Homo sapiens: one gene and its partner. The protein of the gene in region 2 interacts with the protein of the main gene of each other region in a biochemical or structural test. Each region holds a gene or a part of one and is shown on either strand. Other genes may lie near its edges. The genes, in order: PHLPP1 and TRIM11.

Evidence for each region.
Region 1: the proteins of TRIM11 (region 2) and PHLPP1 form a complex in vitro, tested with the Homo sapiens proteins (one study listed by BioGRID).

What each region holds. Positions count from the first base shown.
Region 1 is NC_000018.10:62,710,477-62,718,805, reverse strand, and holds the start of PHLPP1 (PH domain leucine-rich repeat-containing protein phosphatase 1), read right to left. Parts: upstream 3,266-8,329; 5' UTR 3,123-3,265; coding exon 1,547-3,122; intron 1-1,546. UniProt on the Homo sapiens protein: Protein phosphatase involved in regulation of Akt and PKC signaling.
Region 2 is NC_000001.11:228,393,176-228,396,835, reverse strand, and holds the end of TRIM11 (E3 ubiquitin-protein ligase TRIM11), read left to right. Parts: exon of another isoform or gene 1-93; intron 94-1,029; exon of another isoform or gene 1,030-1,125; intron 1,126-1,583; coding exon 1,584-2,131; 3' UTR 2,132-3,160; downstream 3,161-3,660.

The DNA of each region.
Region 1 (8,329 bases), on a different chromosome or scaffold from region 2:
CTAATACATCCCTTGTTTTTATATACAGTTCCTTCCATGTAGTTAAAGGGCACCTATTTTTAATGCTTTTGTAAAATAACAATATTTTACAAATTACATGAATTAAAGGAGAAAAGAATACAGTTGTTGATCTTACATAAAAAATCATCTATTTCCTGGACCATAAACTTTAAAAGCCATGTCATCGAGTTGACAAATTGTCTTCAGATACTGCAAATGCTACTGTATTACGATTTGGTTTTCTTTACAAGTAAAAGATTCATCAGAAATCCACTTAAATTTCAGAAAAACTTCCAAGAAATTTAAAGGGCATCTCTCTCACCAGGAATCCTGTCAGTCTTGCATATTTCAATGTGGGAGTAAAGATGTAAAGATTTCTTCATGCAAACTAATTAAATTGCCACTGGGACACACAAGCTGGACCAAAAGACATTAAATTGTAAAGAATGGCTACAAATTAATGGAGTTACAAGTATGATTATTTTCCACCATCACCTACAACCTAAAAACGTAAAGTTAGCGAAGAGTTAACACTCTTGATTTAATTTTGCTATGAGAACTTTATTTTAAATAAAATTCCTTATCACTGAGAACATAATTATTCAAACCAGAGGAGGAAAGGGATGTAAAACTACTTAGAAAACTCAAGTACAATATCCAGCATCTATAGCTCCTGAATTTAGTACTAGCCAAATCTTCAGCCAAAAGAGAAACATTACATGGGTCACCCCTAGTCAAGAATTTGCTAATGTACTGAAACAAGACGGGGGAAGATTTCAGGACACATCTGAAGAAATAGCAACCACTTAAATCCTTCTTGTGAACCTTCCTGCAAGGCGTATTGCGGTGGTCAGTTCTGACCATAAAGGCTGGAAGAAAATGAGAGAAACAGGCAAAATCTTTTTTTTTATGCAAGACAAACTTGCAGACGAAACAGAAATCGAGCAAAAAAAGCGCTGGGGAAAAGTATCAGTTAAAAAGGCACCCTTTTGTCAGATTTCTAATGAGGGCTCCGTGGGTAATTTATGAGTGTGGCAGAGCTGAATAAACAAAGGCACCAGTTGACAAGTCAGGAGCTCCCGGTGGCACATACAGCTAGAACGCTCAACTGGACAGTCAAATGCAGGCAAAAGTGTGATAGAGCATTTTTATTGTCATTTCTTCTGTCCGTCTTATGCTCACGTGACAGTTTACCTGAAATCCCAAACTGCCTGAAACCCAACATGCCCCTGAGGAAGCACCTTTATGGTTAAAGGTGCTCTTGCCGCTTTCAGAGGGATCTGCTTCCTGTACTTCCTGGTGATTCAGCCACCTCTTTCACATTGCTTTCCAACCTCTGAGCCCTCAAGATTGATAAAACGTGCAGATTTAAAGATTGCTCAATCTAGTACTACACAGACTGTATGAAAAAGCTGTAAAGTTTAAGACAAAGACTCATCAGGACCCGCACTTACTCTTGGGTTGGGCAAACTGACAAGCAATTTGAATCACTCCTCGGTCCTCGGCAGCTTTTGCAACCACCCGTCAAGGCAGGTGACTTCCTTACCTGCATAGAAGCGGATGAGGCAGCCAATCTCCGAGTCCATGCCTTCCTCCTGCACCCTCCACAGCTCCCCAAATCCCAGTTGGAAGAGGTAGTCATTTTGGATCTGCAATGGCTTCTCCTCCGCCTCCAAGCGCCGGGTGGTCTCTCCGTGGAGCTGCACGTACAGGGTGGGCGGCGGGGGCGGCGGAGGCGCCTTCTCCGCGGTCACCCCGCTCCTCCCGGGGGTAGACTGGAGGCCTCCCGGGGCCACGGCTGCCGCTGCCTTCTCCTCGCACGACCCCTCGCGGACGGCCCCGCCCGGGCTGTCAATGGCCCTCGGGGCTTTCTGCTGCGGCTGAGGCGAGGAAGCCGTCTGGGGAAGCGGGAGGGGCTGCGCGGGGTGGCCGGGACGGCGGGGCTGGCCCGGGACCCCCGTCGGGGCCGAGGCTGCGTCGGCCTCGAGCTCTTCCGACGACGACGAGGAGCCGCCGCCGCTGCTGTAGGGGTCCAACCGGTCAGACACGCTCTCGGCGCTGGGACTCAGACTGAAGCTCTCGGTGTCGGAGACCACAGGCCGTGGGGCGCGGGGCGAAGAGACAGGGCCCCCAACGAACGGCTCGCCGGGGCTGGAGTCCGAGGGCGCTGGGCTGGCGCGGCGCGACCACCCGCCCGGGCCGCCGACGGGCAGGGGTAGGTCGGCGGGGGGCGCGCGCGGAGGCCCCCCGAAGGCACCCGGCGCGCTCCTCGCGGGCGGTACCTCCGAGTCCCGCGGCTCCGGGGGCGCCAGCCGGGGGCCGGCCTCGGGGGGCGGTTCAGCGGGCTCCCGGGCGGCGGCGGCTCCGGGCCCCTGGCCCAGCACCTTCACCACGCCGCCGCCTTTGTGGCCCAGCTGCAGCAGGCGGGCGGCCACCTCGCCGGCCGTGGTGTCCAGTGTGCAGAGCACCGGGCGCAGGTAGGTCGAGGCCATGTGGCGGTCGAAGACGTGCACGCAGCCGCGCTGGAGCTGGTGCCTCACCCAGTCCCGGTCCGACGGCTGCAGCTGCAGCGTCTGCCGGTGCTTCAGAAGCAGCGTCTTCCTGTCCAGGCTCCGGGTGCACAGCGACGCCGAGGCCGAGCAGGAGGCGGGGAGGCCGGCAGCGCCGGGGGAGTGCGAGGCAGCAGCGGCCGAGGACGACGACGACGAGGAGGCGGCCGCGGCGGCCGCGGACAGATTCCTCTTCAGCCGCCCTCTCCTCAGCAGGAGGGAGTTGGCGCCGCCGCCGGCCCCGGGTACGGGGGCAGCCCCGCCGGCAATGGGCTGGGGCGCCCCGCGCCGCCTCCTGCGCCCGGCACCCCCCGCTCTGCCCGGCAGCGGCCCCGGCGGCGCCTCGCCTGGGGCCTCTTCCCGCGCCCCGCTGCCGCTGCCGTTCCCGCCGCTCGGGGCCGCCGGGGTCAGCGCGGGCTCCGGACTCCGGCCGCCCCCGGCCGCCGCCGCCAGAGCCGCCGCGGCCGCCGCTGCTGCTGCTGCTGCCGCAGCGGCGGCCGCCGGAGCCGAAGCTCGGTCCTCCCTGCCGAGCTCGGGGAGTCGCTGTACCGTGGCCGCGGCGGCGGGCTCCATTGCAGTGGGGCTTCGCGTTTCCCCCCCAGCTCCGGAGGCAGCGGGCGGAGAGGGAGGCGATGAGGCGGAGGTGGGAGACGGCGGCGGCGCGCGGAGAAGGGAGAAGCCAATGGCGTTGTGCGCGGCCGTTCCAGGGGATTATGTGGCGATTCGGAGCATTCCGTCGGTGTCTCAGTGTTCCATCCCGCGCGCCCGCCTCGCCGCCACCGCCCCCCCGACACACGCCCTCCCCGCCCGGGTCGCGGGCTCCCCAGCGCCGGCCCCGCCCGCTACCCCCGCCTCAACCCGGCGAACCAGCCGCGGATCTGGGCTCATTGAATATTAATCATGCGCCGGGAGCGGGAAGGCGGGAGGCTGGCAGGGCGGGAGGGCCGCGTGTGCCTCATAAATATTCATCGCCGGCATGACGGCATTCCAGGGAGGAGTGGGGAGAGCCAGGGGATGGCCGGAGGCGGAGCTTCAGGGTAAACAAACGTGACGCGTGCGTACGAGGGCGGGGTGGGGGGCAGTTTCCCGGGAGGTTCCTGAGCCGGCCTCGGAGAGGGCAGTGAAGACCGACGCGCGCGGTAAACCTTGGGAGTTGTGGTTCTCGTAAGGGGATCGGCAATCCCGAGGGAAACATGGTGGACTACAAGTCCCAGCGGTCCTTTGGTTCTGCTTCTCCTGGCCGCCAGCAGCTGGCCGTGGCCAGTGAGTATTGTGCCCTCTGCCGTTGAACTCTGTGCCAGAGTTCTTAATGAACACGAATGCTCATGTTCATTAACTTGTATTTTACCCGCACTCCAGCTTGCCAGATGACTTTTATTTTCCCTACTAATTAAAGGTGAGGGCTTTCAGGGACTGTAAACGTACGAAGGTCGCAGGTCCTGGTCCTCACCTGCGCCCATTGTATGAGATAGAGATACACACCCGTCACACCACAGCATCACTGGCAGTCTGAGTGGGCCAACCTCACTTTTTCCCCACTTTTTCAAGACCCAGGAAGACAGGCAGCGTCTGGGAATTCTAACTGAGGCTGTCGTTGAATGTGCTTGTTCGAAGGCACAACCCTAAGTCTGTCCTCTCCCTCTCCTGTACCTGAAAAGGAAAATAGCAAAGGACTGAGGTTTCATTGTTTCCCATTGCTCTTGAAGTCTGAAGTAGTTTAATGACACAGAAAGCACTGGTAAGTAGAAGAAACATTAGAATGGAGTATGAGATGGGCTTTTTCCACGTGTTCTGTCTTAACGTCTTCTCTGGTTTTTTTCTTTCATCATTCAGGGAAAAAAAAAATAGTTTCTACTGCCACAATGTTTAGTCGTGGTCTGAAAAGTTGTATTTTTCGTCAGTTGAATCAATGTTGTAATCATTGGGCAGTTTACTATTTAAAAGAATGTTGTACACCTTTTTAATTGAATTACCATTCCCCCAATTGCTTTGTAATTCGGGATTTTTCTTTTCTTTTTTTCTTTCTTTTTTCTTTTTTTCTTTTTTTTTTTTTTTTTTTTGGCCACAGAGTGGGTCTGTCGTCCAGGCTGGAGTGCGGTAGCGCGATCTGGGCTCACTGCAACCTCCGCCTCTCGGGCCCAGGTGATTTTCCCACCTCATCCTCCGAGTAGCTGGGACTACAGGGCTTGCCACCAAGCCCGGCTCATTTTTTGTATTGTTTTAGTGGGGGTGGGAAGTCCCTTCATGCTGCCCCGGCAGGTCTCAAGCGATCTGCCCGCCTCAGCCTCCCAAAGTGCCGAGATTACAGTCGTGAGCCACCGCGCCAGGCCCTAAATCCGGATTTTCACATGTGAAACTTTTAAACAGTTTTAAACCACATACTATCTATGACCTGTTTTAACCTCAATAAAGTGACTAAACTTGCAGATGAAGAGTGAAGGGGGTTGGAGAGAGAGACCAACTGGAACTTACCGCTTAGGTTATCACAGTTTCATTGAACAAGAATGAAGAAGCTGTGGAGATAAAAATAAATATTTCTCAATGATTTTTTACATTCCTGATGATTTTCTGTATTTTCATTTAAAGTTTCACCCCTTAGCCTCATGAATCTATTAATAATATGTATTTTATTTAAATTCAATCAACAGCAACATATGAAAAATTAGGGAGATTGCAAGTTCTCCCAAGAGTGATAACATTTTCAAGTCAATTAATTTAACAGATAATTACAAACATTTATTATGTACCAGTCACCGTGTTATAGCAGTTGAATAAATCACACACTGTCCCTGCCTTCATAGAGTTTACAGGTTAGAAAGAATAACATTCAAAAAATGCAGCAGAAGTACAGAAGGGGAAAATACAAGGTGCCACAGAAATAGACATAAAACAAGAGGAACTAACCTAGTCTAAGAAGTCAGGCAATACAGACCAAAGTTTGAATGAAATTTTTTGGAGTCAGTGAAAATGTGCATTTGTTGAAGGATCAGTCTCTGAAAGAAAGGGAAGAACCAAAGAGGTAATTATATTGAGATAAATTTCAACTACACTGATCTGTGTTGTGCCTTCAGTAGCCCCGACACAAACTATTTGTTCTAGAAATTGAAAGAATAGTCCTTTAATTTAGGCATCCTTTAATAAAATTTAAAAAACAAGGCACATGTTAAATTTCAGTACTAAAACATGGAATTTGTATACCTCTTTATATTCCTTAGTTGATTTCCTACAAACCCCTTTATATTTATTTATTTATTTTATTTTTATTTTTTCTTTTTTTTTTTAGACGGAGTTTCCCTCTGTCACCCAGGCTGGAGTGCAGTGGCGCCATCTCGGCTCAATGCAACCTCCACCTCCCAGGTTCAAGCGATTCTCCTGCCTCAACCGCCCAAGTAGCTGGGATTACAGGCACACACCACCACGTCCGGCTAATTTTTGTATTTTTAGTAGAGACAGGGTTTTGCCATGTTGGCCAGGCTGGTCTCAAACTCCTGACTTCAGGTGATCCATATGCCTCGGCCTCCCAAAGTGCTGGGATTACAAACGAGAGCCACCACGGCCGGCATGTTTGTTTATTTATTTATTTATTTATTTTTTGAGATGGAGTTTCACTCTTGTTGCCCAGGCTGGAGTGCAATGGTGCCATCTCAGCTCAATGCAACCTCTGCCTCCGGGGTTCAAGCGATTCTCCTGCCTCAGCCTCCTGAGTAGCTGGGACTACTGGCGCATACCACCACGCCCAGCTACTTTTTAAATTTTTTTGTAAAGATGGGGTTTCACCATATTGCCCCGGCTGGTCTCAAACTTCTGACCTGAAGTGATCCACCTGCCTCGGCCTCCCAAAGGGCTGGGATTACAGGCGTGAGCCACCACACCTAACCCAGAATGTTTCTTCTAATCATAAATTCTATCGCCATTGCTCCTTCTCTAAGAAATTACAATACCGCATTGAATCCACCCATGGTTCCTATTATTTAACATTACACAATCACCGCAACTCTGCCTTTTTTATTCTCTAGCAATTTTGTTTACTCTTTGAAGGTATTTATAACTAAAACACCTTTTTCAAGGGGAAAAAAATTTGTACCAAAAACATTGCTCAGGTTGGGCGCAGTGGCTTACGCCTGTAATCCCAGCATTTTGGGAGGCCAAGGCGGGCGGATCACCTCAGGCCAGGAGTTGGAGACCAGCCTGGCCAACATGGCGAAACCCCGCCTCCACTGAAAATACAAAAAATTAGCCGGGCGTGGTGGCGGGTGCCTGTAATTTCAGCCACTCAGGAGGCGGAGGACTCAGTGAGCCGCGATTGCGCCATTGCACTCCTCCAGCCTGAGCAACAAGAGAGAAATTCTGTCTCAAAAAAAAAATAAAGACATTGCTCAGAGGATTTAGTATCCAAATAATGGGGAAATGGGGACTGGAGAGCCATCATACACTCCTGGCAGATAGGGGCTTGGTACTGGGATACCTAATACTAAGTGGTGTCGGGAGGAGGCAGGAAATGAACAGGATGAATATTGTTACAGTACCTCAGCATAACGAAGAAGGAAATACATTCCTACCTCATAAAAACAGTGTTTGGAGGGGTGGGGACCTAAAATACAATTTTCCTGGATTTCATGCATAGAGTCCATCATCTGAAGATGACATATTCCATTGTATGCAGAATAATGTAAATCAGAGCTAAGGGGAGAGCAAAAGGGCCGGGGTCCACTGTGTAATCCTTCCCTTGTTCTGACCCAAGCCCCCAGTGATGTTACTAAGCTTGGGGTAAGAGAAGAAACAGAAAGAAAATGAGAGCTCCTGAAGAATAAACAATCCCTTACCGCCAGATCAACTGGATCCTTGTAGTTGAAAGAACAAATTGATAAAGGGCAATGAAACTTGTACTTAGAGCTTGCTAGTATCGGGAAACATCACCCAGACCATCTGTGCCAATGCACTCTATACAATTTCTCCAAATAAGAAAAAGATTTCAATAAAAGACAAATGTGTTCCAGACACCCATGAAATGGCAGCTTCTCCTACTTGAAAGTGGAGTGGGGAATACACCAGTATCCTAAAACCACATACATCATGAATGCCCCCCTTTAAAGTGTTCCAAATGTACGTTCTAATACCACATTTCTGACTAACCACACTTTCCAAAGAATCCCATTTTGAAATGCTAAAAGATAATCCTGAAAAGAAACATCAGATGCAAAAGTTGTGAATCCTGATGCCAACTTGTTAAAATATTTTCACATCTAAGTTTAGAAAAGGAGAACACAATTTTCAATTTATTGCCACAGTTTACTTTATGCTGTGTGATTTATAACTGACTTGCTATGATCTGCATCTAGGTTAATTCTGTTTGAATCCTTAGAACTAAGATAAAAGAAGTCATCTTTGGAGGTTTATTTTCTAATATAAGCAGTTGGAATTTTAATAGAGGCATAAATTGATAGCTGGGATGATTTCAGTCTGAGTTGTTAAGGGCTCAGCTGTGTCCAGAAATAAACTCAGAAAGATGCAATATACAATGTAATACATTTAGTTCCTACATTATGAACAAGGGATCTAATTATAGTTTCACATTTTTATATCCCTTGAGCTACTAGTGGTTTACCATGCCTAAATTGTTCACTGTTTACTCATTCTTTTTTACTATGAGGGACCCATTTAGCAAATTACTGCTCTAGTGCACTAAATGGGCCCCAGGTGGCCAAACTGAATTAATATGTTCCCTGTTCACTGGCAGGATGAGACCTTATGGTCTCTCTGAAGTCTTACCCCTCCCTCAT
Region 2 (3,660 bases):
TGTCATGGTGGTGGGTTGTTGGGAAAACGTCCTCTGCTCATACTTCTGACATCAGTTGTGTGGGTATTTTCACACCAAACAATTCTTCAACTTCTGGAAACGAATTGGGTATCCAAGGATTCCATTCAGCATTGAACAGAATTGCCAGTGCTGACACTACAGGAGTTAGTACAGACCCCACAGATTAAGGGCTCAGTCCCATAAGACTGCCCCCACTTCAGATGCCAGTCACAACTTCCAGGGGCTGCCCATACTTCTGTTCCCTCAGCGCCTCTGCAGATGTGAGCATTCGCTAGCACAGCCCATGGAACTCAGAAGAGCACTTTACTTACTGTCATTGGTTTATTGTGAAGGATACCACTCAGGAAGAGCCAAATGGAAGAGACACATGGGCAAAGCCTGGGGAAGGGCTCAGAGCTTTCCCACCCTCCCTGGGTGCACCTTCCCAGCACCTCAGTGTGCTCACCAACCTGGAAACTCCCTGAGCCCCAAGAGCTGTTTAGGTGTCTTTGTGGAGGTTCCATTACATGGTTATGATTGATTAAATCATTGGTCATTGGTGATGGGGCTCAACCTCAGACCCCTTTCCCCTTCCTGAGGTCAGAGGCTGGGGCTGAGTGTTCCCGCCCTCTACTGACAGGATTGGTCTTTCTGGTGGCTGGCCTTATGCTGGGCTCTCAGGTCCCCACCTCAGCCACTGCAGTGGCATCAACTCAGGTGTGATGGAAAGGGGCATCTTATGATAGCACAAGATGCTTCTATCAGTCAGGAAATTCCCAGGGTTCTGTGAGCTCTGCGCCAGGAACTGGGCACAAAACCCAAATCTGAGTCTTGTATCACAGTCACCCAAAGGAAGTACTATCCTCAGCTCTTGCTAGCAGGTCAGGAGCCTGTTGTGTAGGAACTGTGTGCAGGCCTCCAGAGGTGGATAGATCTGAAATCGGAGTGGTCAGGGTTGGGACAGCTGCCCTAATTCACATCCTTCATTTGGAGATTGAAAGGAAAAACAGACTGGATGCATTGGCTCACCTCTGTAATCCCAGCACTTTGAGAGGCTCAGGCGGGAGGATTGCTTGAGGCCATCAGTTCAAGACCAACCCGGGAAACATAGCAAGACTCCCATCTCTACAAATAAAAAACAAAAAAATGAGCCAGCCATGGTGGCACACGCCTGTAATCCCAGCAGCTTGGGAGGATCTGAGGCGGGAGGATCATTTGAGCCCAGGAGATCAAGGCTGCAGTGAGCCATGATCGCACCACTGCACTGCAGCCTGGGGCCACAGAGCAAGACCCTGCCTCTTTAAAAAAAAAAAAAAAAGCAACCAAGATTCCCTCTTGATATCTGAAGGCAAAACATGGACCAATTTGTAGGACATTGTAAGTTGCAACTGGACGTAGCTAAGTGGGGAGAGGATGTCCACTTGGAGACAGTTAGTTACTCCAGGAGGTTGTGAGGCTACAGGCCCAGGGCAGAGAGCCAGGCCGTCCGACTGGGAGGATTGTACCTACATGCCCAGGACATGGGCAGATGGCCCCAGCTTGCCTGTGGCTGTGCCTGGGTGACCTTGGGCCTCTCTCTGCAGGGGACGTGACCTTGGACCCGGACACCGCCAACCCTGAGCTGATCCTGTCTGAAGACAGGCGGAGCGTGCAGCGGGGGGACCTACGGCAGGCCCTGCCGGACAGCCCAGAGCGCTTTGACCCCGGCCCCTGCGTGCTGGGCCAGGAGCGCTTCACCTCAGGCCGCCACTACTGGGAGGTGGAGGTTGGGGACCGCACCAGCTGGGCCCTGGGGGTGTGCAGGGAGAACGTGAACAGGAAGGAGAAGGGCGAGCTGTCCGCGGGCAACGGCTTCTGGATCCTGGTCTTCCTGGGGAGCTATTACAATTCCTCGGAACGGGCCTTGGCTCCACTCCGGGACCCACCCAGGCGCGTGGGGATCTTTCTGGACTACGAGGCTGGACATCTCTCTTTCTACAGTGCCACCGATGGGTCACTGCTATTCATCTTTCCCGAGATCCCCTTCTCGGGGACGCTGCGGCCCCTCTTCTCACCCCTGTCCAGCAGCCCGACCCCGATGACTATCTGCCGGCCGAAAGGTGGGTCCGGGGACACCCTGGCTCCCCAGTGACTCGGGCCCTCCTGGAGGAGTCCTGTTGCCTCTCCTGCCCCTCCAGGCCACTGAGTGTTTTGGCCACTTGGAGGACCTGGGAGGAGGGAGTGTGTCCTTTGAGCAAGAGGAGGAACTCCTGGTGCCTTTCTGAGCCTGCGTGGGAGAACCCCAATTCTAGCACTCCAGGAAACTGTGGGAGAGTGTGGGGCAGGCTCCGTCCTCCCTGGGAGACCCCTCCAGCCACCGGGTGCCACTTAATGCCAACAGCCCTTACCAAAGCTGGGAGCCCCATTGCCCCGGCAGCTCTGGCCTGTGGTTCCAGAAGCTGAGAAAACTCCACTGGGGCTTGCAGAATCCAGGGTTCACCTAAGCTGCACAGTTCCTGCAGCTTTGCCAGCCCCCTGAAAGTCTTGTGTACCCCACCTCTGAAGATGCTGGGGGAGGCAGCTGGGATGGGAGCCAGCCCCATGCCTGTCTGTGACCCCACAGTGGGTGAGAGCCCGTCACAGTCCTGGGTGTGGCTGCTCTGGAAGAATTAGGAGGCAGCCATAATAAGAGTCTTCAGAGAGATGATGGGAGGGGCCAGTGAGGACAGGAACAGAGAGTAGATGTCCTATAATAAAGGGGCTTCTGGGAGGTGCCTGGGCACAGATGTCTGTTCAGCAGGTGTGTGGGCCTAGAGGAGAGAGCAGAGCCCAGAAATGTCTTTTGCAGGCCCACGTTCTGACTTGAAGCTTTCGTGGGCATGTTGCCATTGGGTTTTGCCCTTGCAAAGGCTTCCTAGGTCTCCAGTGGCCCCTCAGGACCCAGGGTCCCAGCTGCTGCTTGGGGATGTGCACTGCTGGCCGCCGGCCTTGCAGTCTCTCTACCCTGGGGAGGAACAGTGGCTTCTCAGAGCCTGGGGCATACAGAAGAAGGCAGGAGTTGATTTTTGTGTTGGGTTTGGGGTTTCTTTGTCCTCAAGGTACTGTTCTGTTTCTCTTTACCCCTCTGCTTTATTTATTGTAAGCATTCCCACGTTAAATAAACTTTGGCTGTTGTCTACAAGTCATCCTGCTGGTGCCTGCTTAGTCCAGGAACAATAGCGGGTGCCCCACTGCCCAGCAGAGGGCAGAGCCCCAGGGAGGCTGTTGACGGGGCAGGCGGGAAGCTCAGGCAAAGTAAGGGCCGGGACGGGCAGCCACTTCCCACACCCAGGCACAGATGGGCTCTCCACTTTCTGTGCTCAATATATATGTTCCTTATGTGGAGCTATTGCCGGAATGTTTTTTTCGAGATATCCTGGTAAATGTTTCCTGCATTCCATTGTGCTTAACGAGTAGTCTCCTGATTATCATTTATTCAGTCACTCTCCCATTCTTGTCTTTTTTTTGGCAGGGGCCTGGGGGGGCATTATGTAATACCATGTTGAACAAGATCAGCAGTTTCATTCAGCTGCAACAAAGAGAAGTCTGAGTGGAAACCAGGGGACTGGGCATTTCTCTGTGTTGGGGTGGGGTTTTTGTTTGTTTGTTTGTTGTTTTTTGAGACAGGGTCACCCATGCTGG